Linked DNA regions of Homo sapiens: region 1 is linked to region 2. Evidence: fine-mapped expression QTL. Tissue or cell type: whole blood. Region 2 holds a variant in brackets; the other region holds the start of a gene. All regions are shown on one strand. Distances are between the middles of the regions.

Region 1 (10,317 bases), 30 kb before region 2:
GTCCAGCGGCGTTTCTGGAACTGGACCAAGCAAAGGGGAGACCGAGGTGAACGCTCGCGTGAAGAGGCGCTTCGTACAAACGGAAGCCACCTCCCACCAACGTGTGCATTCATCAGAGGCCACGCCCACCCTTCGGGGGCACTTGCGTTTCTCCGCACAGTCGCAGAGTGAGCGGCAAGATGGGATGGCACCATAGCAACCTCGGACACAACCTAGGGACTGGAGTTGCGCGTTTCTACGTAAGAGCCGGAGCTGCCGCTCAAGTCCCTGTGGTGGTGGAACTCCCACATCGTGGCAGAGTAAGGGGCCCCTGGGAACCCCGTGGGAACCCCGGGAGAGGGCGGACACCCCTGCTGTAGAAAGCTGCTCTGCCCGAGCCTGGACCCAGCTGCTACATTTACCCGAATAACAGACAGGGGCACCTGATTAGCTGTCTTGCGGGACCTGGACCCCCCACAGGACTCAGACCTTTTCAGTATCGTTCTCGTTTCCCTGTGTCCCATCTGGTTCCATAATTTTCATAAATTTAAAAATCATCATTTGGTGTTATGGTTAAGTCACTTGGTAATTTCCATGTTTCCAAAGCAAAGTGAAAACACCTCTTTTGCACCCCACAGGCCAAGCCAGCCAGATGGACAGTGTTTCTCTGGCTGTGTGGCCCAGAGCGGGCAGCCCCTAAGGAGGCCAGGAGCCCCGCCTCACTCTGCCGTGCACGGGAGGACAGTCAGCAAGGGCTCGGCTCTCCTCACAAATCTGCGAGTACCCTGCTGCCAGCTTTGTGGCTACTGAAGGATGAGAGAGAGTGGAGAAGGGGGTCAATGTGCAGGTGCAGTGCCTGGACTGGTCTGGAAGCCCTGGCCAGGCCCACACCTGGAGCAGCCCTCTCCAGAGATGCAGGAACAGGGCTTGCAAAGACCTTGGGCGCTGAGGCTTCGCAGGGGCACTGGTGTAGAAGCCAGAGAGCCAGGGCCCCGGGCAGCCCACCTGGGGAGCACACAGAGCTGCTGGCAGATCCCAGCACCCCCCAGCTTCCTGACTGAAACCGAGGTGGTGGGAGCGCCCCTGCCCTGGCTGCAATGAGGAGTCAGTGAGCACTGGCAGTGCCTGTTCTACAGCGAGGGCCCCACCACAAGCCTCTCCAATGCTGCAGAGCCCTGTCAGGAGGCCTGGGGACAGGCATCCAGCGTGTGAGCAGGAAGCCAGAGCTGAGCCAGGCTGGCTTGGCGTGGACCTGGCGGAGCCTCCTGGGTGCCAGCCGCCACATGCCCATCCCAGCCTCTGCCCTCGGGAAGCCAGAAGTCACAGGAGAGACCCTTGTGGGCGGTGGTCTGTGCTCCGTCCCCACTGCCCACTCTGGTCCCTCGGCTGGCACAGCTGGCTCTGTCCGTCTCCCACCCTTCTCTCCATGTCCTGCCTCCTGCTCAGAGCTCATAGCACAGTCTCTCCCCACCCTTCCCCTGCAATACTGCTTCTGCTTGGCCACAGCTGACTTTATCCCTCTCCTAGCCCAGGGCACTGGCCATGTGCTCCCCTGCCCACTGTGGCCCAGTGCCCCCAAATGTGGGGCAAACCGCACCTCTCTGGACCCTCTGCCCACGAGGGGCTCTTCCCGCCAGACCAGTTGCACACCACGAACAGTGCTGGCACGTCTGCCTGTTGGGTAAGTGGCTCGGGGACATCTGCTTGGAATGGGGCATCCGCGTGGACAAATGAGTGAGGAGCCCAAGCCTGCACTGGGCAGGGGCAGCACCGAGGCTGGCACAGGGAGGCCCAGTTCATCCCAAATGAGGAGGGACCCAGGACTGGGCACAGTCTCTGTCTGGGGAGTGGTTCCCGCCAGCCAGGCGGCCTCCTGTCTGACCTGACCTGGCCCTTGCTTCCAGGGACGGCTGACAGTAAGCTTGTAATTACTGCTGCTCCTCAAGACGACATCTGTCCCTACCACATGGCTTGGGGGGCAGGTGTGGGGCGGCCCCGTACCTGCCTCAACTCCAGCCAGCAACATGGAGGGTGGAGGACGACGGGGCCCATGGCCAGGTTGGTGGGCTCCAGTTCCTCCTCGGGAAAGTCTGAAGTCCGCTGTTGTCTGGGGCCTACACTGACTGTCCCACACCCATATCAGGTGAGACCCAGAGACCCAGAGCCAACAGGCCCTGACCCACGACCCAGCAATGCGCTCCAGACCACAGGCGCTCCGTGAGGCCAGTGGCTGCCACCCAGCTGAGTAGGGAGGGAACTGCCACTCGGCCCCAGCGTTCCCAGCCTGCCCTGTCCAGCAGGTGCCTGGAAGAGCTAGGAGAATGCTCATCAGCACCTGCCCCGCCCCAGGCCAAGGCGCCTGTGAGCAGAGCCCCGAGCTGTGTGGTGGCTGGGTCCCGAGACCCCCACAGGTGCCCTGCAGCATAGCTGTCACCCGGTGGCCACACAGGGCCATCCTAGCAAGCTTCCTTGTCAGCTGTGACACACAGGTCACCTGTGGGTGCGTGTCTGACAGGACAGAGTCTCTCAGGTACTGTCTGGAGCCTCCTTTCATTCTTTCCTCTGGGCTGTGGCCCTGTAAGATGCTTTCAACTGCAAATAATGTGCAAGAGTCACATCTTCAGTGTGTGAATCAACAGAATCCTAAATCTTCTAGGCACCATCTTGCAGTACGCACTACGAATCCCTACTTGGAATTTCTCAGAGCCTTAGGTTCGGGTTTGGTGGTCGCCCTGTGGCAGGGTTCGGGGCTGCTGTGTGTCCCATGTGACCTGTATGTCCGTTACCTGAGGCGCTGTCTACAATCTCATTGTCCCTGCTGGGCAGGACTGGGGCGGGAGGGATGAAGGCCCTGGGGCTCTGTCGCAGCCGCACCAGTGTCACCCTGGCGATGGGAGGCAGGGCCTTCAGCCGCGGGTAGTAGAAGGAGTTGGCCGGGTGGCTGGGAGAGGAGGACGTTATCTGGGGAGGAAGAAGAGGAGGTTGGCCTGGGGTCCGAGAAGCCCACCTTCTGGTATGCGTATGGCCTCACTGGGGCCACTGCCCAGCGTCCAGCGTGCCCTCTGCACCACTGTTGGGGACAGGGTCCCATGTACTCCTCTCAGCCATCCCACGGAACACGGGCTGGAAACCGAGGCCAGGAAGGGGCAGCCTCCTCGGGACGCGCGTCCCGCTGTCCTCCCTGCGGTGCTGTGACCCCGGGTTGGGAGAGTATGGGAGGGCTGCACCCCCTTGCTCACTGCTGGCGCTAGAAGCAGAGCCTCTTCCACACAAAAGCCGCAAGCGGCTGTCCTGGGCTGGGAGGCGAGGGTGCAGCCAGGCCCCAGCCCCGTCCCCACCGCGGGGGCCATAGCGGCCCTTGCGCACGCGGGGTGCCCACTCACCTCGGTCACCGTGTCCTGCGGGATGGTGGCGAAGTTGGGGGAGGAGAAGGTGAAGCCGCTGTCCGTCCCGGCGTCGTAGGGGTACAGGTCCAGCGCCGCCTGTTCCCGCCAACGGTCCCCGTCGCACAGGTCCAGGCTGTCCACGCCCACGAACCAGTCGGGGCTGGGCACGATGCGCACCACAAACGAGACCTGCGGCGACAGCGGCTCAGCGCGCCTGGCCCCGGCCCCCCGGACCCCGCCCCCGGCCGGCCCCGCGCTCACCAGCGAGTGCCTGCGCTGCACCTCCAGCTCCGCCGACGTCTGCCCGGTGCCGCTGGGGACGGCGGGCGCCGAAAACACCGCGTGCACGCTCTGCAGCGCCTCCCCCGCCGCCTCGATCTCCTTCATCAGCGCCCAGGCCTCGCCGCGCTCCGCAAAGTCGCGCAGCCCGTTACTGACGTACTGGTTCTTCCTCCACATGCTGTAGTCGGAGCTATGCGCGGCCCCTGCAGGACCACCCGGCCGCGCCGCGGACCATGGTCAGACACTGCGGTCGGGCTTGGATTCCAGGGGGCGCCCCAGGAAATCCCTCCCCGCCGCCCGCAGGGAACCATGGCCCCCAGTCACGTCGGACCGTGACACCCTGTGGCTGCCCCTGCCGCGACCCACCTGCGCCCTCCCCGTGAGCGCCCCCTGCCCCCACCGCATCCCCGGAACCGCACACCGCAGGCGCTCGGCAAACATTCTGGTGTTAGAGTCTCCCGACGTCAGCACGCCCCAGACTGGGAAGCGCCGCCGTGCAGCTGTGCGGGGGGCTCCGGCGCCGCAGCCCTCCTGGTGGAGCAGGAGGCGAGGAGGGGGCTGTACTTACCCAGCAGCGAAGACCACTGCGCAGGGGGGCGGAACAGGGGGTACTGCTTGGGGAAGGCCGTCTGGCTCCACTTGCCCGTGAAGGTGATGCTGTATTTGGCCAGGGCTCTGGCGGAACAGATGGACTCTCCCCCAAGAGGCTGGCCGGCGGCGCCGAGAGTGGCCAGGAGGAGAGCGCAGAGGGCCTTGCCCAGGGCGGCGGCCGGGCTGGGGTTTTCCATCACCTGGGAGCACAGAGGGGAGCAGCCGCGCGCTGGCACCGTCGTGGCAGCCTCGGGGTGGAAAGCCGAGAGGGCTGCGGCACTTTGGGCTCTGAGGACGGCCCCGAGCACCCGCGACCCCCTCCCTGCTCCGCAAAGCTCTCCTGCGGTGCTTCCGAGACCCCCATCAGCGGAATGGACGGCGCGGGGTTAGATCGCCCGTGCGCCTGCGAGCGACCAGGGGTAACGGGCAGGTTTTCAGTCCGAGTCCCTGCAGCTTGCCGGGCCGGTCTGGGTGCGGCCTCCGGGATGCCTTCGCCGTCGCAGGGACCCGGGGCCTTGGCCGACTGGCTGCCCCCGGGACTAGACCCTTAAAGCTCGGTCGCAGCCAGTCCTGGGGGTCCCTCTGGAGGTGCCACAAGGTTCTGGGCCGCGGGGAAAGTGCAGGAGGCCCGGGCCCTCTCTGGGTGTCCCGGGGGCACGCAGTACTCACCCGGCAGGAGCAGCGGGAGCGCGGCCGGCAGCGGTCGGGTCCCAGCCAGAGCCCGGAGCTCCTATTTAAGCCCGAGGCCGGCGCCCCGGGCCGGCCAATGAGGCTCCAGTTCCTCCTGTCTTCGATGCTGCACGGCCTGGCCTCCAGCGAGAGGCAGATAGGACGTGGGAGAAAGGAGGAGAAGGGGCTGCGGGGGCGGCGGGGGCTGCCGCTTTCCCAACTCGCCCTGCCCAGCGACCTTCCCCGGGTCGGATCACCCTCTTCCCCTGGCAGTGCTGCCGCACCCCTTTCTTTGTCTGTCTGTCCTATCCCTCCCCTCCCCTCCCTGTCCCCTCCCTTCCCCTCCCCTCCCCTCCTCCCCTCCCCTCCTCCCCTCCCCTCCTCCCCTCCCCCCTGTCCTCCTCCCTCTCCCCGTTTCTCTCCCGTTCCAACAAGCGCCTTCCTGGTGCCTCCCTAGGTGCCACTGAGGGGAGTTCTTTGCCCCAAGCCTTTCGGGAAAGCTCAGGGCGTGGGGGCAGAGGGGCTCTTGTTTTCACCTTCTCGAAATTAGAGCCAGCGTGCTACACCTTCTTGCGCAGGGTGTGACCTGGAGAGCCCTGTGCGTGGCCTGACTTCAGTCTACATGCTGGAAGTGGCTGGGGAAGCTCCTGGCTCCCGGCGCAGGCATCCCTGGCCTTTGGGGCCCTGGCTTTAAGTCTCTTTCCTGGCATGGCCTAAAGCTGCACAGAACAGCCTAGCGGTCTGCACTGTGGCCAGAGGGCATTTGCAAGCCATCCCTCCTGGAGGGAGGTCAGAGTGGGCTGAGGGTCTGGGGTGGAACGCGCAGGGAGTCAGGAAGAGCCACAGAAAGGGGGCCCCCCTCCCCAGGACCCCGCACAGGGCTGGGGCTGCAGGCCGGCGGTGTGTGCGGTGCAGAGCCCTCCCAGGGGCTCTAGGCTTCCCTGCCTTTGGGATGAAGCTAACAGATGCTGAAGTTGATCCTGCTCCATGTCAGGAAAATATTTATAGGTCCCCAGTCATGGGATCTGGAAACAGAGCGGAGGAAGGAGCTCGGGAATGGTCTTGCTCAATCCTTCCCGGCCTCTGCTCATCGGAATCACCCAGAGGGCTTTTAAGCTTAGACAAAACACTCTGATGTTTGGAACCCTGTTAATGTTTCACAGATTCAAAAAGAGAGAAAAAATAAATAGAAGCAACTAGGACAGAATGCAAACAGAAACAAATGATCTAACCTGTATTTTAAGCGAAAACCACAGATCAGCCACTCAATGCAGTATTTAGACTCCAGGCCCCCAGGCCAAAGACAAATTTCCACCTCCGTGCTTCTCAAATGTTTTTATCTGAGGACTCCTTCATACTCTTAAAGGTCACTGAGGGCCAGGCGCAGTGGCTCATGCCTGTAATCCCAGCACTTTGGGAGGCCGAGGCGGGAGGATCACTTGAGCCCAGAGTTTGATACCAGCCTTGGCAACACAGGGAGACCTCATCTCTACAAAACATACAAAAATTAGCTGGGTGTGGTGGAGTGCGCCTGTGGTCTCAACTAGTCAGGAGACTGTGTCTGTGGTCCCGGCTACTCAGGAGACTGAGGTGGGAGGATCACCTGAGCCAGGGGAGGTCAAGCCTGCAGTGAACTGTGTGTGCCACTGCCCTCCAGCCTGGGCGACAGAGTGAGACTCATGCCTGTAATCCCAGCACTTTGGGAGGCCAGGGCGGGCGGATCACTTGAGGTCAGGAACTCGAGACCAGCCTGGCCAACATGGTGAAGCCCCATCTGTACTAAAAATACAAAAACTAGCTGGATGTGGTGGTGCACGCCAGTAATCCCAGCCACTCAGAAGGCTGAGGCAGGAGAATTTCTTGAACCCAGGGGGCAGGGGTTGTAGTGAGCCAAGATCGCGCCACTGCAGTCCAGCCTGGGCAACAGAGCGAGACTCCATCTCAAAAAAAAAAAAAAAACAAAAAAACAAAAAACAAAAACAAAAAAAACTAATTGAGGACACTGAAGAACTTTTTTGTTTGTATGGGTTATACCTATGGATACTTATCATTTTCTAAATCATAACAGAAATGTTCAGAATACTTGCCAATTCACTTAAAAATAAGAAAATATTGCTATTACACATTAACATAAATAGCATAATGTTTTATGAAAAGCAATCATACTTTTAAAAATGAAAAACCCGCCTGAGAAAAGTGGCGTGGTTCTACGTTGGTGCGAATCTTTGTATTGTCCGGCTTAGTGGAAGCTGGATTCCCATATCGGCTCCAGCACTTCATCTGCTGAGATGTGCTGTTGGTTGAAGTCTATGAAGAAAATCCAGCCTTGGCTGCGTATGTTACCAGCCTTGTCAGGTGCCTGCTCTGGCCTGCAGCCCTCGAAAGCCGCCGTGTGCCCATCAGAGCATGGGAGCAAAAGGTGCCCTCATGCAATGGGCTTCGATCTCATCATCTGCCTGGAAGGATCTCAGGCCCTCCACGAGTCCCCAGAGCAGGACTGGCAGCCGCTGCTCAGAGGCTGGACTCGAATCCACAGGCCTTTTTCCCAGAGCGGCATGGGGCGGCTGTACTGCAGCTACTCTGCATCCCTGGACAATCCTCGCTTTCTGGACAGCTTCCTCGGCTGAAAGGAGCACAGGCTCCATGGCAAAGCTACTGGCTCTGGGTCTGAGGAGAGGAAGGAGGCGCCGGGTCTGGGGCATGTTCCTGTGTAGGAAGCCAGGGTGCCGCTCCAGAGACTCGCTGAGGCACAGTCCCCATCTCAGTCCAGCTCTGGCCGTGGCAGCGGCTTCCAGGCTCACCCAGTCTCACAGGAGGCCAAGGAGGCTGCGGAACAGCCCAGGGGCAGCAGGAGCTGTTCTCCCAGCCCGGCCCTCATGCCGTCTCAGTGAGCTCTGCGACCTGGGGCCCCCACTTGGCGGTGGGCCCAGGCTGGGGGGTCTCCAGCTAGGATGTAGGGCGGTGGTGGGCCCAGGCTGGGGGGTCTCCAGCTAGGATGTGGGTGGTGGTGGGCCCAGGCTGTGTGGGGGGAGTCTCCAGCTAAGATATAGGGTGGTGGTGGGCCCTGGCCTGGGTGGGGGTTCTCCAGCTAGGATGTGGGTGGTAGTAGGCCCAGGCCTCGGGGGCTTCAGCTAGGATGTGGGTGGTGGTAGGCCCAGGCCTGGGGATCTCCAGCTAGGATGTAGGGTAGTGGTGGGCCCAGGCCTCGGGGGCTTCAGCTAGGATGTAGGGCAGTGGTGGGCCTAGGCCTGGGGGTCTCTAGCTAGGATGTGGGGTGGTGGTAGACCGAGGCCTTGGAGGTGCTCCAGGCAGGGCCACAGCTGATTTGTCTGGGAAGGGAGGGGGCTTGTTTGGAGGGCTGGAGTAGACAGCAGCCAGGAGGAACTTCCTTTGGTAGTGGGAGGCCCCTCCAAAAGCACGCCTGCGAAGGCCCTAGGGCACCAGGGGACATGGGAGCATTCTTTGCTGTGCTCAGAGAGGGGGACATGGGAGAACTGGGGCCAGGTGGGCTTAATTTTCTGGATCCTGTGGCCCCTTGGGTTGGATCGGGCTGGGGTCTCAGGCAGAGCTGTTTCTGCACTGAGGCAGGGACTGCAGGCCAGTGACGGAGTGATCTTGTGTGACTCCATGCTCTCAGAGTCTTGCTGGAAACCCCCCTGGCTCTCAGACCCTCTTCTGTGAACCAGAAGTCTCTATCCTGCCTTCTGCTGAGGGTCACAGGATAAGTATCCATAGGTGTAACTCACACACCAGCACTTTGCAAGGTGTCCCCCCACCCACACAGAAGAGTTCCTCTGTGCCCGCAGGCAGGAGCAGCCCCCCACATACACACACAGTACATTCATTCATTCACTCACACAGTACTTTCATTCATCCACCCATTCAAATAGTACATTCATTCATTCACTCACTCACACAGTACATTCATTCATCCATTCACACAGTACATTCATGCAATCATCCACACAGTACATTGATTCACACAGTACATTCATTCACTAATTCACTCACACAGTACATTCATTCAAGCATCCATTCACACAGTACATTCAATCATCCATTCACACAGTACATTCATGCAGTCATCCACACAGTACATTCATTCACTAATTCACTCACACAGTACATTCATTCAATCATCCATTCACACAGTACATTCATGCAATCATCCACACAGTACATTGATTCACACAGTACATTCATGCACTAATTCACTCACACAGTACATTCATTCAATCATCCATTCATACAGTACATTCATGCAATCATCCACAGTTCATTCATTCATTCACACAGTTCATTCACACACTTCATTCATTCATTCACACACTTCATTCATTCATTCACACCATTCATTCATTCATTAACCACAAGGTGAGTATTCCTTGCATCTCAGAGATGGGGACAAAGGAGTGACCCCACTAGGCCCAAGGTTGCAGGGGGCTGGGGTGGAGTGGATACATTTTGTAGATTGGATTCTCTTATTCAGTAAAGTGTTTAGTGAATTGGTTGACAGCAATGCCAGGGTCCTCTGAGGACAGGGCCTTCCTGGAGGTCACTTGAGCCACTTGCCCCAAGGTGGTTTTCAGGAGAGTGTGGCTCAAGGCTGTGGCTGGAGCCAGTGGCTGCTGCCTGTCTGCAGCTGGGCAGAGCAGCCCCTGTGTCCACATCCAGCTCCACCTGGCTGCCCTGCCACGGCCCCAGCAGGCACCCCCTTGTCTTTGACACCCCCTTAGTGCCTGCTGTGGTTGGGTAAGTGTAGACCACAGTGTGAGTAATCAGCGCCCACACTCCCAGGGTGTTGGCAATGTTTAAAAGTTGTCTTAACCAAAATGTGTTGCTAAGGTTGGACTTTTGGACAACCGCAGGTGCTGTGAAGCTCCTTTCCCAGTCAGGCATCGGGGGTGGAGTCTGTGCTGCTTAAATTGGATCTGAGCAGGCGGGTGTGGGGTTTCCATGGGTTTGTTTGTGAGCCGCGTGGAGCAGACGGCATACAGGAATGCCTGGCGAGCCTCCCCTAACTGCCACCCTGCTCTGTTTCGCCTCAGGCTGTGGCCCTGCCCCGGGCCCCAGAACCCAAGATCCCTTCAGGGGGCAGGGGTCCCAGCTGAGAAGGGAGAGGCCTTCTTTACCTTTCTGCATGGGTTCTGGCATGGGGGCCCTCAGGGTCTGGCATGTCAACGGCTCTTTCAGGGCTTGCCCACAGCCCCTCCCTGGGGCGCGGCACAGGCACCCAGGCCTGGCCCAGCAGCATGGAGCTCCTGGCCACATCTGCTGACACCACACCAGCTGACTCAGACGCGGAGTACCCACCCACGGGAGCGGCCGTCTCCTCCAGAGCACCCAGACTCCAGGATCAGTTTCTGGCTCCCCCAAGGGACCCTGCTGCGCATTTGAAAACCCACCTGAA
Region 2 (14,548 bases):
GGCCGGCCTCGCAGGAACCACTTCGCTCTCCCCCATCCACTACTCCCACAGGCAACAGGACCGGCCCCCTGGCCCGTCGGTGGGCGCATCAGCTTGGTGGCCCTGGCCCCCTGCGCCTCAGGGGTCCCTCACAGGCCGGCCAGCTTCCAGCACCCTCCCTAAGTCCTCGGCCCCTTGGAGGCTGCCATGGCACCTGAACCTCCCCCCGCCTCTCCAGGCACAGCTCGAGGTTGGGCGGATGGGGGCTGCATCCCGGGCACCACATGTGGGTAGGCACTGCCGCAGCCCCTCGAGTAGCCCTCAGCAAGCAGGGCTGGAGGGTGGGCTCTGTGCAAAACCGCCATCACAGCCCCAGGGCCATCAGCAGGCAGAGGCGCAAAGCCTGGTCATGGCCAGCAGCCCTGGGATGCCCCTGCCCCAGACCCCCCACCCCGGAGACCCCCAGCCCCAGGATGCCCACACCTCAGCCTCCCAAGTAGTTGGGACTACAGGTGTGCACTACCACACCCAGCTGATTTTTTTTTATTTTTGTAGAGCGGTCTCGCTGTGTTGCACAGGCTGGTTTCGAACTCCTGGCTTCGAGCCATCCTCCTGCTCAGCCTCCCATGGTGCTGGGATTGCAGGCGTGAGCCCCACGCCTGGCCACGCGCCTTGTTGAGTTGGTGACTTCGCCTTTGCTGTGGGGATCTGGGTTGGGGTCTTGTGGCTTACATGAGAATAGAAGATCATGGGGTAGTTCCTGGCACCCTCCCCTCAAGGAGGCTCACACAGGCCAGGACCGCCCCCTCTGGCTGCCCCATCGCTGCCCCCCGACAGGCCCTCTGCCTCTCCCCTGTGAACCACGAAGCACATCGATGGGGTGCCTAGCGCCCCGCCTCAGTCAGGGCTCATGGGGGAGGCCCTTCTTTAACGTCTCTTACTGGGCACACCCAGAGGCCACGTGTTCCAGGGTCAGAGAGACCAGGAGAAATCCCAGCTTCTTCACTCACGGCTGTGCATCTTCAAGAAGGTGACTGTGCCTCTCTGAGCCTCAGCCTCCTCTGTCTGACAGCATAGGGGTCTGCAAGTCTCTAGAGGTCATGTGAGCTCCATGGGAACCTCTCATCTATACCGTGGAAGCAGCTGCGGGAAGTGCACGTGAGCTCTGTGGCCTCATGCCGACCAAGACCCTGGGGGTCACACCAGGCATAGCTGAGAAGCAGAGCAGAGGCCACTGCGGTGACCAGGGTTACTCCCGAGACTCAGAGCAGAGGCCACTGCAGTGACCAGGGTTGCTGCCTGCCTGCCACACACCCCACTTGGGCCTCTGGCTGTCTCCTCTCCTGCAGAAACCCCATGGGCAGGTGTGCAGCCAGCATGGAGGGAAGATGTGTGTGCCAGCAGAGAGAGCACGAGGCCTGGAGTTCTCATCTGTGCCACCAGAAGCAGGGGACAGTGAAACATCATCCATGACCACTAGGGAGACGGCTCCATCCCAGGCATCACAAACCAGCCCAGAAGTGTCACCGGTAAGCGCGACAGCAGACACTAGAAGGTATGTCATCCATACTCATTATCCAGAGAAGGTACTAGAAGGAAGCCAGTCACTGCCTCTGAGTCAGACCAGAGGACACCCCCCTGACATCAAGGTGAGGCCAAGGGGAGAGGAAACAGGGCTAAGTAGGGCCTGTGATGTCAGCATGTCTGGTTGGGCATGTGGCAGGGACGATGACTGAGATAGAAGACATAAACCTCCATGGTCCAAACATGGGAGCTAAACTCGGAAAGCCAACAGGACGGGGACATGATGAGGGGACTTGAGGGTCACAGGAGCTCCCTCCGTGTCTCTCTCTCCATAATTAGGTCTAGTGGCAACAGAAAAATGCAGACAGATCAATATGGATGGTCATGCTCACGTTCCTCATGGGAAACAGCGCTTCCGAAGATTCCTCACGGGAAACAGAGCTTCCAAACGTTCCGACTTCCGATAAGTCCATGTCTGTTGTGTATTGGCTGCAAAGAAAACCTCAAGGAACTAAAAAGTAGAATAATTAAAATGATCCTGTTATCCAAAAAATTGTAAAATAAATAACGGAAAGTGCCACCTCTTCCCCCAGAAACTTAGAAACCAACACACTCCCAGGTAGCCCTTGGGTAAAACAGGATATTAAATCTGAACGTGCACTCTCTGAAAAGCCGAGAAGCCATAAATATCAATCCATAAATATCGAGGACTCAGCTAATGCAGCGCCCAGAGCCCCCAGCACAGCTCTTATTTTTTAGAGGAAAAAATAAACGAGAGGGACTTTGTGCCACCCTAAGAAACTAGAATGAGAACAATAAAGTGCATTTTAAAAAGTAGGGAGAATTATGAAGATAAAGCCAGAAATTAATGAGTAGAAAACAAATAAGTAAAAAGGAGAAATGATTGTTTTCTGAAAGAAATAAAATAAAATCCCCTTGCCCAGCCCAAAAGCTGCATCAAGAAATGACTGCCTAGGCTGGGCGTGGTGGCTCACGCCTGTAATGCTTACACTTTGGGAGGCTGAGGTGTGCAGATCACTTGAGGCCTGGAGTTTGAGACCATCCTGGCCAATATAGTGAAACCGTGTCTTTGCAAAAATACACAAATTAGCCGGGCATGGTGGTGCGTGCCCGTAGTCCCAGCTACTTGGGAGGCTAAGACAGAACAATTGCTTGAATCCGGGAGGTGGAGGCTGCAGTGAACTGAGATCGTCCCACTGCACTCCAGCCTGGGTGATAAAGTGAGACTCTGTTTCAAAAAAAAAAAAAAACTAAAACAAATAAATGACTACCTCTATTTAGAATTTTTGTACATTGAAATAAAAAAACCCACACATGATTAGGAAGAAAGAGACCCCAGTATGGAAGAGGCTGGAGGAATGATGAGACAGCCCGCTCGGCCGGGGCAGCTGCTTCGAAACCTGCAGCAGCCATGTTGTCGTGGGTGTAAAGTCCAGAATGACTCTGGATGAGCGGCACCACGCAGAGATGAGCACGAGGTGCTGGAGAGGGCGAGAGCTGAGCCAGGAAAGGAGGCACCAGGAGCAGATGTCCGCAGCTGACGATGACCTCACCTTCCATGGAAGGAAAGTCATCCCAGGGTTACTTTAACCTTCCCAAGACATGAAAGGATGGAAAACTCTGTAATTCATCTCATGAAACCAGGATAATCTAATTCAAAAACCTGATGTGGAACAAAAAGAGAAAACCATAGACAAATATCACTTTTCGCAGATGCAAAAAAATCTAAGTAAGAGAACAGCAAATAGGACTCAATGCAGCATCAGCGGATTCTACACAAGAGAACAGCAAATAGGAACCAACGCAGCGTCGGCGGATTCTACACAAGAGAACAGCAAATAGGACCCAACACAGCGTCGGCAGCATCGTGTTATGGCCAAGCAGATGAAGGCCAGGCTTACGAGGGCAGCGCAGTCATCAGAGACGTCATTTCATTAGCCAATTAGCACAGAAAATTCAGAGAACCTCACCGACAGGTACTGAAAAGAAAACTGACCAAATTCAGCAATCTTTATGAATAAAAGCACTATTTCTAGTAAAATAGAAAAAAGTGCAAAAGTCTCTGTCCACAATAGTGGCCAAGATCGTTCTACGTGGAAAACACAAATGTCACAAATCCAGGGTCGACTCGTGGGGCCTGCTGCTGTCATAATTGTCCAGCATTTTCTCGGAGGTTCTGGCAAACTTAATAGAAAAACCAAATAAATGGCACAAATATCAGAAAAATAAGACAATTTATTTTGTTGATGACATGATTGTAAACCTAGTTATGCCTCTGCTCCCTCATTTAAAAATTAAAAATCAGGCCAGGTGCGGTGGCTCACGCCTGTAATCCCAGCACTTTGGGAGGCCAAGGTGGGCAGATCACCTGAGATCAGGAGTTCGAGACCAGCCTGACCAACATAGTGAAATCCTGTCTCTACTAAAAACACAAAATTAGCCGGGCGTGGTGGTGCATGCCTGTAATCCCAGCTACTCGGGGGTCTGAGGCACGAGAATCGCTTGAACCCATGGGTGGAGGTTGCAGCGAGCCGAAATCACACCACTGCACTCCAGCCTAGGCCAGAAGAGTGAAACTCCATCTCAAAAAATATTAAAATTAAAATTAAAAATCAGTAAAAACATTTTAATACAAGATAAATATACAAAAATTAGTAACTTCCCACTCCTCTAGCAATAATCACCTGGAAATTTTAAAAAAAGGGAGTCAAAATATTCCCTTTGCCATGGCAACTGAGTAGTTGGGGGTGAAGGTTAGGATGCTGTATGGAGCAGCTCCGGCCATGGGGAGCTCGACAGAGGCGTCATTTCTCTCCCACATGGTGGCTGAGAATAGCTGGGTGTGCTGCTCTGTCGCCACACATGGGGTCCCCCCATCACGCCTCTTCTCTAGCCTTCCAGGCATCTTTCCTGGCTGTGGGGTTCTACTGGGTGCAGAAATGCCCACGTCCAGCTGGCAGGAGGGGCCGGGGCCAGGGCAGGAGAGGAGAGGCCATGTTTTCCAAGACCGGAGCTGGCAGGAACAGTGTCTCCAGGTGACAAAAGCCTCCGACAATTTGGCGAGAAAGGTGGGGGTGGGCATGAGAGGATGCAGGGCCCCCACCACTCAAGCAAGGAGAGCGGGGGGCAGAGCCACGGAGAAGACCCAGTCTGGAGCCTCTCCCCCCAGCCTGAAGCCCAGCCTCCAGGTTCCATGAAATCACCTCCAGTTATTCCAGGAGAAACGGCGCACGGCCTAGGAAAGAAAGAACAGGCAGCTTGGACCCAGGCTCCAATCCCGGCTGCTAGTTACCAGACGGGCAGCCACATCGCGTCTGTGTGCCTCAGTTTCTACACCTGCGGCTGGGTTGATGGTTGTGTCCGCCCGGTGGGGCTGCTGTGAGTTAAGGGGTGAGAAACGCTTCCCTGTCCACTGTCTCTGACACGTTCTTCCTGGGTCACCCCTCACTCAACACCCCCAGAGACCAGGCAGGCTCCACGGACAGTTGAGAAGGC[G/A]TCCAGCCTGCAGAACGGAGTCCAGGACCCAGAGAAGCTTCAGGGGTGAGCAGGGTGGGTCGGGGCTGGGGAGTAAATGACAGAGGGAGCAAGTGGAGGGAGGAAGGGGCTTCAGGACAGGAGGTGCAGGCTAAGCGAGGATGGCTGAGCCGCCCTGGTGTCAGAGCAGGGGAGGCTCAGCGGGGGCGGGGGCGGGCTCAGCCTCTGCGCTTCTGCCTCCAGGATGTTATGGATCTGGCAGGGAACGTGTAAACCATGAGCTCACCCCACGGGAACGTGGTTTCCTCTGGCTGCCCCCACAACAGCTGTTCCCCATCAGCACCGGCCCCATCTCCCTAGCAGGAAGCTGGGCAGCCACTGCAGGCCAGGTGTGGACGACCCTCACAACTCTCCCATCTGCGTGGACATCGCTGGACGGGGTGGTAAGGGGGAGGGGAGCAGCGAGGAGAGGGTGGGTGCAGCCCCCCACCCCTCTGGTCCCTGCCTTTGCTGTGAGCAAGTGGAGAAAGCCCAGCTCCTGGAGGTGGGGCCAAGTCTGCAGTGTCCTCAATGCCACCAACCAGGCCTGACCCTGACCACTGACTGAGCACCACGTGGTGCCTCTGCCCTGGATGTGGGCACCCCCGTGCCCTCCTGGCTCTGTTGCAGCAGACCTGTACGCCAGGGCCTTCTAGACGGTTCTGGCCCCTCCCGTGTGGACTGTTCCCACCATACCTGGTCTGGGCTGAGGCTTCCTGGCCCTTCCCCCTCCCACCCTGACGAGGTTGGCCTGGGGCGCCCATGGATGCACCCTGCCCACATGGCCCTCTGCGGTCACCCACAGCCAGCGGGACCCAGATTCCCTGCAGGCCAAATGCAGGTGCCCCAGTTCCTCCAGCCCCTCCCCCCGCAGTATGTGGGCAGTGACAAAGAGGGGGTGGGTCTGGCCCTGTGCCATGCTGGGGCCCCATGCCCGCCCTACCTGCCCTGAGTGTCCCGGCCGTGAGTCCCCAGCCCACTGGCTTCAGGCACTTCCAAGCCCCTTGCTCGCTTCCCTGAAGAGGCTGTGGGTTTCTCCAGGCCAGGCCTGTGGTCAGCAATGCAGGCAGGTGTTTGTGATCAGGGCATCTGTGCTATCAGGAACAGCCCCCAAACCACGCAGGGAGGGAGGAGGCCCTGAGAGAGAAGGTGCCGTTACATGCACGTGACCACAGAGAAGGCTGCCTTCACCCCGTCTGCACCCCGGGAGTGCCTGCCACACTGAGGTCCGCGCGCAGTTTCTGGTTTTCTGATGCTGACTTTTTTTTTTTTTTGGAGACAGAGTCTTGCTCTGTCACCCAGGCTATAGTGCAGTGGCGTGATCTCGGCTCACTGCAAGCTCCGCCTCCTGGGTTCACGCCATCCTCCTGCCTCAGCCTCCTGAGTAGCTGGGATTACAGGCGCCGGTTGCCACGCCCGGCTAATTTTTTTGTATTTTTAGTAGAGACGGGGTTTCACTGTGTTAGTCAGGATGGTCTCGATCTCCTGACCTCGTGATCCAGCCACCTCAGCCTCCCAAAGTGCTGGGATTACAGGCGTGAGCCACCTCGCCCAGCCGGTGCTGCCTTCTTGAGCCGTGGCCTCCACAGTGCTTCACCTGGCTCCCGCAAAACAGCTTCATTGAGATGAAATTCACATGCTCACAAGTCACTCTTTACAGTGTACAATTCAGTGGTTTTTAGCATGTTCACGAAGTTGTGCAACCATCCCCACTCATCTCACTCCGGAACACGTTCATCATCCGCAGAAGACGTCCTGTGCCTGTTAGCAACCGCTCCCCGCCACGGTTTGAGTGAGGCCACAACAGAACATCAGACAGCAGTTTATCAACAGAGACTTCCTGCCTCCCCGTCTGGAGGCCAAGGTTGGGTTCTCCTCTTCCACGATGGCCCTTGCACGTCGCATCCTCACCGGCTGGAGGGTGGGTCTGCCCCACAAGCCCTTTTCATGGTGGCTTTAGTCACAAGGGCTCTGCCTCGTGAGTGGATCAAACACCTCCCATCAGTCCCCACCTCCCGGCACTCCACGGGGTCTAAGTTTCAGCCTGAGCTTTAGAGGACGGAAACGTTCCAACCACGGCACTGCACGCCAGGCCCAGTACTCACCGCTCTCACATACAAAATCATATGAGTCAGCATTCTCTAGAGGGACAGGACTCATAGGATACATGAACAGGGGATGATCTTGGACTCCCTGCCCACCTTCCAGACACATGGGGGCAGGGCTGGGCCCCCACGGCTTCTGTGGGCTCAGCCCACTCAGTGCTCATGGGTCGGAGTCTCCTGCCTGCCGCTCTCCCAGGCTGTGCTTGCTCGCTGGTGGCCCTGCAGTCCTGGGGTCTCGGAGGCAGCCCCCACCTCAGCTCCGGTGGGCATAGCCTCGGTGGGGACTCCGAGGCAGCTCCAACCCCACGATGAGCCTCTGCCTGGGCCCCAAGGCTGTCAGCAACATGCTTTGAAATCTGGGTGCAGGCCACCATCGCCTGCAGTGTCAGCGCCCCGTGGATGCCGTCAAGGCCCCCCGCATGTGCCTTTGGGAGCGATGGTTGGAGCTGCGCCTGCACCTGCCTGAGCCATGGCTGGGGCGGCCAAGGAGGGCTGGGCCAGGATCGGGGGAGACCCAGGCAGGCAGTGAGCTCTGCGGTCCCAAAGGTGCCCCAGGGTCTCATCCCTTGCCATGATTCTGTCCTCAGGGCCCTTATAAAAGGGCTAGAAGGAACTAGCTTGGCTGTTTTTCCTCCGAATTCTGCCATGTGAGGCTGGATACGCCATTGGAGCTGCCCTCAGCAGACCCCAGCCTGCCGGCACCTGGATCTTGGACTCCCCAGCTTGAGAACTACAGGAAATAAATTTCTGTTGCTTATAAATTACTCAGTCTGAGGTGTTTTGTTACAGCAGCGGGGATGGACTAAGACCCTTCCCATTTTCCCCCAGCTGTGCCCTCGCCCCCAGCCCCGGGCAGCTGGGAGTCTACTCTGTGTCACCGTGGACCTGCCCATTCCAGACATTTGACATAAATGGTCTCATGTGATATGTGGCCGTCTGCGTCTGACCTCCTTCACTTGGCAAATGTTTGCGAGGTTCATCCACTTTGGAGCATGGGCCAGAGCTTCATTCCTTTTTACGGGTGAAGAATAGTGTGGGGCCAGGCCACAATGTGCCCATCTGTCCCTCAGCAGATGGACATGTAGGCTGTGCCCACCTTTGGGCTATTGTGAATAATGCTACCAGGAACATTTGTGGATAAGCTTTTGTGTGGATAAGCTTTTGTTTCTGATTCTCGGGGACGTGTACCCAGGAGTGGGATTGCTGGGTCACATGGAATTCGGCTTCACACTTTGAAGAACAGAACAGCCGCATGTGAGGTTCCCACGTCTCCGCCCTGACACCTATGATGCTTTCGGTTCCAGCCATCCCAGTGGGTGTGAGGTGTGGTCTCGTGTGGTTTTTATTTGCATTTCCCTGGTGGCTAATGGTGTTAAGCAGCTTGTCATGAGCTTGTTGGCTGGTCGCATATATTATTTGGAAAAAACATCTATTCAAATTCTTTTGCCTTTTTTTTTTGAGTTAGAGTCTCTCTCTGTCACCCAGGCTGGAGTGCAGTGGCGCGATCTCAGCTCACTGCAACCTCTGCCTCCCAGGTTCAAGCAATTCTCTTGCCTCTGCCTCCTGAGTAGCTGGGATTACAGGCGTGCACCACCACGTGGTGGCTAATTGTTGTATTTTTAGTAGAGATGTGGTTTCACCACGTTGGCCAGGCTGGTCTCAAACTCCTGACCTCAAATGGTCCCCCCAGCTTGGCCTCCCAAAGTGCTGGGATTACAGGCGTGAGCCACTGCGCCCGGCCTCTCCCAGTTTGCCCATTTTTTAACTAGGTTGTTTATCTTTGTATTGCTGAGCTGTGAGAGTTCTTTAGCACACTGGTTTTTCACTACCTTACCCTGGAGCCGATACACATCCTTTCTGCTCAGTCATTAGCCAGAAATGCAGAGAAATGCTACTGTGTGACCCCATGACCTCAGCCTGATGTGCAGGGGTCCCCAGAATATTAGACGGGCACTGACTGTCTGCAGGATACAGACCCGGGAGGGTGGCTTTGCACTGCTGATCTGAACACAGCCTCTCACTGATTCAAAACGTCCTTTTGGCGTGTCTGTAATGCCTGCGTGTTCACCGTTCGCATTGTTACTGTGAGCGACCCACGCACCAGCTCCACACGGGGCTCCCTAGGTGCAGCCTCCGGTGTGTGTTAAAACCTGGTGGCCACGGTTCCCTTGTTCATCTTTTGTTCCAGAATTTCCTTAGTTTTCTTACTTATTTTTCCACGTTAACTTCACAATCAATCTACCTGATTCCAGGGTTCTCCGGTGTTTTAATTGGCCCCGCTGTGGCAGCCGGCCAGCACGAGGGACGGCACCTCGTGACGCCCAGGACAGACCGGGCTTGTTGCTGGTCTGTGGTCCTCAGTCAGGCCTCAGACCCTCTATAACAGGTATAGATGTGCCCGCCGTTTGCTCCTAGAAATTTACAATTTTTGTTGCTGTTGGGAATGGTCCCTTTTCTTTCTTCATTGTCTCTCCTAACTGGAAGTGCTTGAATTTGAAAGATGCTGATTCCTGACTCTGAATTTTGTGCACAGCCACCCTCCGAAACTCACCTCTGCCTTCTAATCAGTTTTCCGGGTCTATGAGGAGTCGCAGCAGGCTGTGCTCGGGTGCAGAGCCTCTCTCCAGCCGTGTGCATGCAGCTCTTCCCGGGGCTCTTGGCTGTGAGGCCTGGCCTGTCCCTGTGGCTAAGGCGGAAGACCCAGCTGTCCCCTCCCTGTGCCCTCGCCACGCCCTCCCCGTAACGCTGACCAGACTTTGCACAGGGCAGGGCCCTGGGGGCACATGGACAGGAACTGGCTGTGGGTGGAGACAGCACCCGGCTGAGGTCCTGGGGAAGAGGCCATGCCCGGAGCTCCTGGACACAGGAGGTGGCGCTGGCTGAGGCCCGATGCCTGAACTGGGCATGGGGGGAGGCACCTTTGAGCTGGGGCCTCCTCGGAGCAGCTGCACCCAGGGGCAAACCCTGCCCCTCGGTTTCCATGTCCACATCTTTACTAGAACTGCAGCTGGCATCCGTGGAGCTGTGGGCTTTGTCCAGGGAGAGCCGTGCCCAGCACCTGGGGGACCCTGCAGAGGTGCTAAGGTTCAGGGTTAAAAACGAGGATCCTGGCCTCCCGCAATCCTGTCCCCAGAGGCCCCATCGGAGCCGCCTGGCCTTCCCTGCCAGCCCAAGCATCCGAGGCTTTTGCCAGCAGTGCCTACGGCAGCCTTGGGAAGGGTGGGGGCCCAGGGAGGGGCATCATTTGGTGTTGATCAGGGGAGATGCTGGCGTCACCACGGCCCCAGGGCCTCCAGGCCCGCCCAGGCTCCCTCACTCAGATGTCCCACCCACAAACACCTGACCAGGCCCCACCAGGGGCCCCTCTCACCCCTGAAGCTGTGCAGGCCCTCGGCTGACAAACTGGGACCCTCAGCTTGGATGGGCAGAAAGGTCCAGGAGGGGCCTCTGAGACCTCCTCGCTCGGGCCTGGGGGTTGGGGCCGCAGGAAGCCATGCTCCGCCCGATGCCCACCCCTAGCTCCCCTGGCTGCCTCCTGGCCTCTGTCTCCCTCCAGGCCCCCAACCCTGACCAGGGAGTGGGGGGTTGGGGGCGGAGCTTTTGGGAGGAGGCCACGCCCAGCATTGGGTTTGCATTTCCAGGGAGGGCTTCTCCTGCCTGGTCTCCTCCCCTGGTACTGGGCTGGGGGCTGTCAGGGTGACCCTGCCCTACCCAAGGCTGACCCGGGGCCATGAACAGGAGGATGCCCCCCTCCCTGCTCCTCATGTGTGCCCCCACGGGAGCCAGCGGGCAGCAGCTGGACCCCAGCAGCCTCTCAGGGCACCCAGGACTGGAGAGGGCCCTGCCAAGGGTCTGCGGGTGCCACTCACCCACCCGGCTGCAGCCCCCAGCTCCCCTGGGCTGACCGTGGGCCTAGGCCGAGCTGAAGGGGCTGGCGGTTGTCAGCCCTTGGTCTGGCCCCACCACTGCTCTGCCAGGGCAGGGGGAGGCCGGCAGCCCAGGTTGTGGGGCCAGAGGGCCACGCTGTGACAGACGAGAAGAGGGAGTGACCTGGAGGGCCCGGGGCAGGGACCAACAGCAAATGCCTCCCTAGGTGGTCTCTCCAGGACAGATGTGTCCCCTGTGGGAGGGCTGGGGCGCCCAGCAAAAGCAGCAGCTCCTCAGGGAACGGGGACCCAGCGGGCTGAGTGGGGCTCTTGGAATAGAAGGAGCCTCCCCAGGCTCAGCTCTGCAGGCGGAGAGGGGAGGCAGGGCCTGAGGCTCATGGTAGGGAAGCGGCCTTGCCCTGTGAGGTCTCCCTCAGGGGGCAGAAGAGCCGGGACCCCGCCAGCAGCAGAGAACAAACCCCAGTCTAAGGCGAACCCCAGGTGTGGGGTAGGTGTAAAAGCAGATGGCTTTGACCACGAGTGCACAGGTGAGGGGCAGACAGGTGTGAGCAGGTGTGAGCAGGTGAGGGGATAGGTGGGAGACACATGGAGGGTGGGAGGAGATAGGGACAGGAGAAGAGGCAGTGGGGGCAGGTGTGGGGCAGGTGTGGGGCAATTGGAGGTGGGTGGGGGTGGATGGTGTCATTTGGGAGTGGATGGGGTTAGGTGTGAGCAGGTGCAGGGCGGGTGGGGAGCACGGGGAGGAGGCTGGAGTTGGTGTGGGCAGGTGCAGGGCAGTGCCCGGGAGGCACTGTCAGGTGAATGTGGGGCTGGGCAGAGGCTGACCTGGGACGCCAGGGCTGCTGCTGAGAACCTGCTGTCTGGGCAGGCAGCCGGGCCCCGCCAGGTGTGACTGCCCACTGCACAGAGGGGGTGGAGGCCGGAGGCCTAGACGCCTGTAGGGGCTGGGAGGGATGTGGGTGAGTCCGGCTGCTCGACACCCTCCGTCCCACCAGTGTCCACAGCCCTGGCCCCGGCTGGCCCCGGCGTCCCCACAGTGGGCACCCCCAGCTGGAGCCAGCTTGCATCAGGGACCTGGATAGTGAGTGGCGAGCCCTCCACAGTGGGATCCTACAGACACTGCTACCACTGACCAACGGGGTCAGTAGCTGGTTTAAAAAAGAAAGGGCAGCAGAGAGGCCACCCAGAAGAGCCGCTGTTTCCATGTGCCGCGCTTACACATGCTCCAGAGGGTCCGGCTGCCTAACCATGCGCCGCGCTTACACATGCTCCAGAGGGTCCGGCTGCCTAACCATGCGCCGCGCTTACACATGCTCCAGAGGGTCCGGCTGCCTAACCATGCGCCGCGCTTACACATGCTCCAGAGGGTCCGGCTGCCTAACCATGCGCCGCGCTTACAGATGCACCTAACCTTATATTGTTCAAGTCTCATGTCCTGCCTATCAGGGATGTTTTCGGACCCTACATGGGAAGCCCTTGGCCCGTTTGAAGGTCGGGTCAGGGGGCGGCTGAGGCTGTCCAGGGCAGTGGTCAAGGGCTTGGGGAAGCGGAGGTAGACTCACCAGGTGCTGGTGCTCAGAGGGGCCGGGGAACACCCACGCCCTGGCCGGGCCACCCCGTCCCTCCTGGTGCTTGATGCCAAGGGGAGCGGGTCAGGCCGCGAGAGGCCCAGGGCCAGCCTGGGGAGCAGAGCTGCTCAGCGGGGCAGAGGTCCTCCTCCGGGCGCCGGGCTCAGGGCCCAGTGGCCAGATGGTTTTCTTTGCTGCAGGGAGTGCCGGCTGCGGGGGTAGGCCTGGGAGGGCTCATGCAGCTGCTCTTGGGTTTCTCTGCTGTTGTTTTTTGCTGGAAAATCAATCCTGCAAGTCCAGCTGGGCTCTGGCTGAGAGCAGCTAGGGGTGGGGATGGTGGGTGCTTCCCGGCCCCCACGGGGCAAGTTCTGGGCCCACAGTGGGGAGAGAAGGCAGGATGGGGTGCAGGGCCAGCCTGGGGTGGGGCCCCGAAGAGCCTGGCTCCCTGCCCTGTGCCCTGCTTGGGCCACCCCAGAGGGACTGTCCCGACCCTCCCAACTTCCTGCCAAGGCCCCCGGAGCTGCCTGCAGCCTCCCCTTGCTCCCGTGCCCGGGGCGGAAGTCTACAGGAGACCAGAGCCCGGGTGTTCATCAGCAGCCGCAGGAGAGTTCCCCACCAAGGCGCAGTAGCCTGAGGTGCTGGGGCTGCCCGACCCTCCCCAGCTCCACCCCTCTTGCCTCTGAGCCCTACCCAAGGCCTGGAGAATCACCGCTTCCTCCTGCTCCAGGGGTTCCAGCAGGGCCCTTGGAGGATGTGCCTGCCGCGTTCTCAGCCCTCTCTGCCGACCTTTCTTGAACGGACTCTGGCCACGGTGCCAACGCGTCAACGGTCTGTCCGTCTGCTGTCCGAGCTCAGGGGCCGTCCATGCCTCCACGGCTGGCATACAGTAGCTCTGGTTTTACCCATGAGGGGGAAGCCCAGCACCCGTGCCCTCGATCACATCGCCAGTTCACAAACACACATGCGCACACGCACACGCCGCCCGCCCACCAGGCAGACACCCACACACCTGTGCACGCACGCGCACGCCAAGCCAGCGGGCCCTGCCCCTGCCCCGGAGCCCTCAGTGTCAGAACCAGGCTGCTGTGGCTGTTTCCTCTTTAATTCGCCTGAGTTTTATGAGCCCAAATTCATAGACCTTTGTTGCTGCATATAAACTTGAGGATAAACTTGTTGAATTTGTTCAACGTAAGCAGCTGAAATTCTGCGTGGGGTGGTGATGAACGGCTCTAGCACTCGGTAAAAGGTATTTAAAGCGCATGTAGTTTACAACACTAACAGCCCGCCGCCCGCGAGCACAGCCCGTCTGGTCATCCGGCGGCCTCACCGTTCACCACGGTTGGCGGCCCTGGTCACTCCCACGGTCTTTACCAGCCGGGTGCCAGTGGCTGGGACCAGGTTCTGACCACTGTGCCCACTCACTGTGGAATCGCGTGAGCAGGCCAGACCCTGCGTCGTAAGGACAGAGCAGGACACGTCCTGTCATGGGGCACCCGCTGTCTGCGACTTTGTTTCCGTTTGTTTCCGCCTCAGCTTGGGGGAGACAGTTGGCAGGCACCAGAGGCGCTCCTGTGAGGTCACCTGGCCAGTCTCAGGATTAGCTGCAGGCTTTGGCTGATTTTCTTGGGTCTTGTACACAGATGCTTGTCAGCAAATACCAGAGACTTATCTCTTCCCTTCCAACATGCAAACCTTCCTTCATGTTCTTGTCTTAAGCGTTTTGGCACAACCTCCAGCCTAATACCAGCCTCTAGGGAGATAAACAGTGCTGCCGATTTCACAGGCCAGGAAACCGAGGCTGAGGGCCCCCCACCCACCTCCTGCTACCCCGCACCCCTCCTGGGGCCTTGCTGGGCGGGGTGACTCCCCGGAGGCGGCACCAAGGGGAGGTTCGTTTCGAGGCTCAGAGCACTTTTCTGACAGCTTTCTGTCCCTTACATCCCAGACTCAG

What was found.
Region 1: SPON2 starts here. The variant in region 2 is fine-mapped to the expression of SPON2 in whole blood (TOPMed, PIP above 0.99).

Annotation. Positions count from the first base shown.
Region 1 is chr4:1,167,637-1,177,953 of GRCh38, forward strand. It overlaps SPON2 (spondin 2), which reads right to left and starts at 4,947. Exons shown (of 6, transcript NM_012445.4): 1 at 4,908-4,947; 2 at 4,216-4,438; 3 at 3,627-3,850; 4 at 3,363-3,554; 5 at 2,766-2,940; 6 at 1-20. The coding sequence starts at 4,435. All of the region lies in intron 1 of LOC124900647 (nascent polypeptide-associated complex subunit alpha, muscle-specific form-like), which reads left to right. RefSeq lists enhancers at 4,127-4,842, 4,843-5,560, 9,765-9,874.
Region 2 is chr4:1,195,289-1,209,836 of GRCh38, forward strand. It overlaps LOC124900647 (nascent polypeptide-associated complex subunit alpha, muscle-specific form-like), which reads left to right. Exons shown (of 3, transcript XM_047416477.1): 2 at 1-1,508; 3 at 1,843-3,750. LOC124900164 reads right to left here and starts at 5,969. Exons shown (of 1, transcript XM_047416479.1): 1 at 5,338-5,969. The coding sequence starts at 5,969. The coding sequence ends at 5,355. It overlaps LOC100130872 (a long non-coding RNA gene), which reads right to left and starts at 13,674. Exons shown (of 4, transcript NR_024569.1): 1 at 13,288-13,674; 2 at 9,694-9,828; 3 at 5,981-6,174; 4 at 495-4,759. It also overlaps a transcript of SPON2 not described here. RefSeq lists enhancers at 1,273-2,472, 4,355-4,904, 5,400-5,619, 6,860-7,059, 13,238-13,307. The variant G/A (reference allele first, on the strand shown) is at 5,020.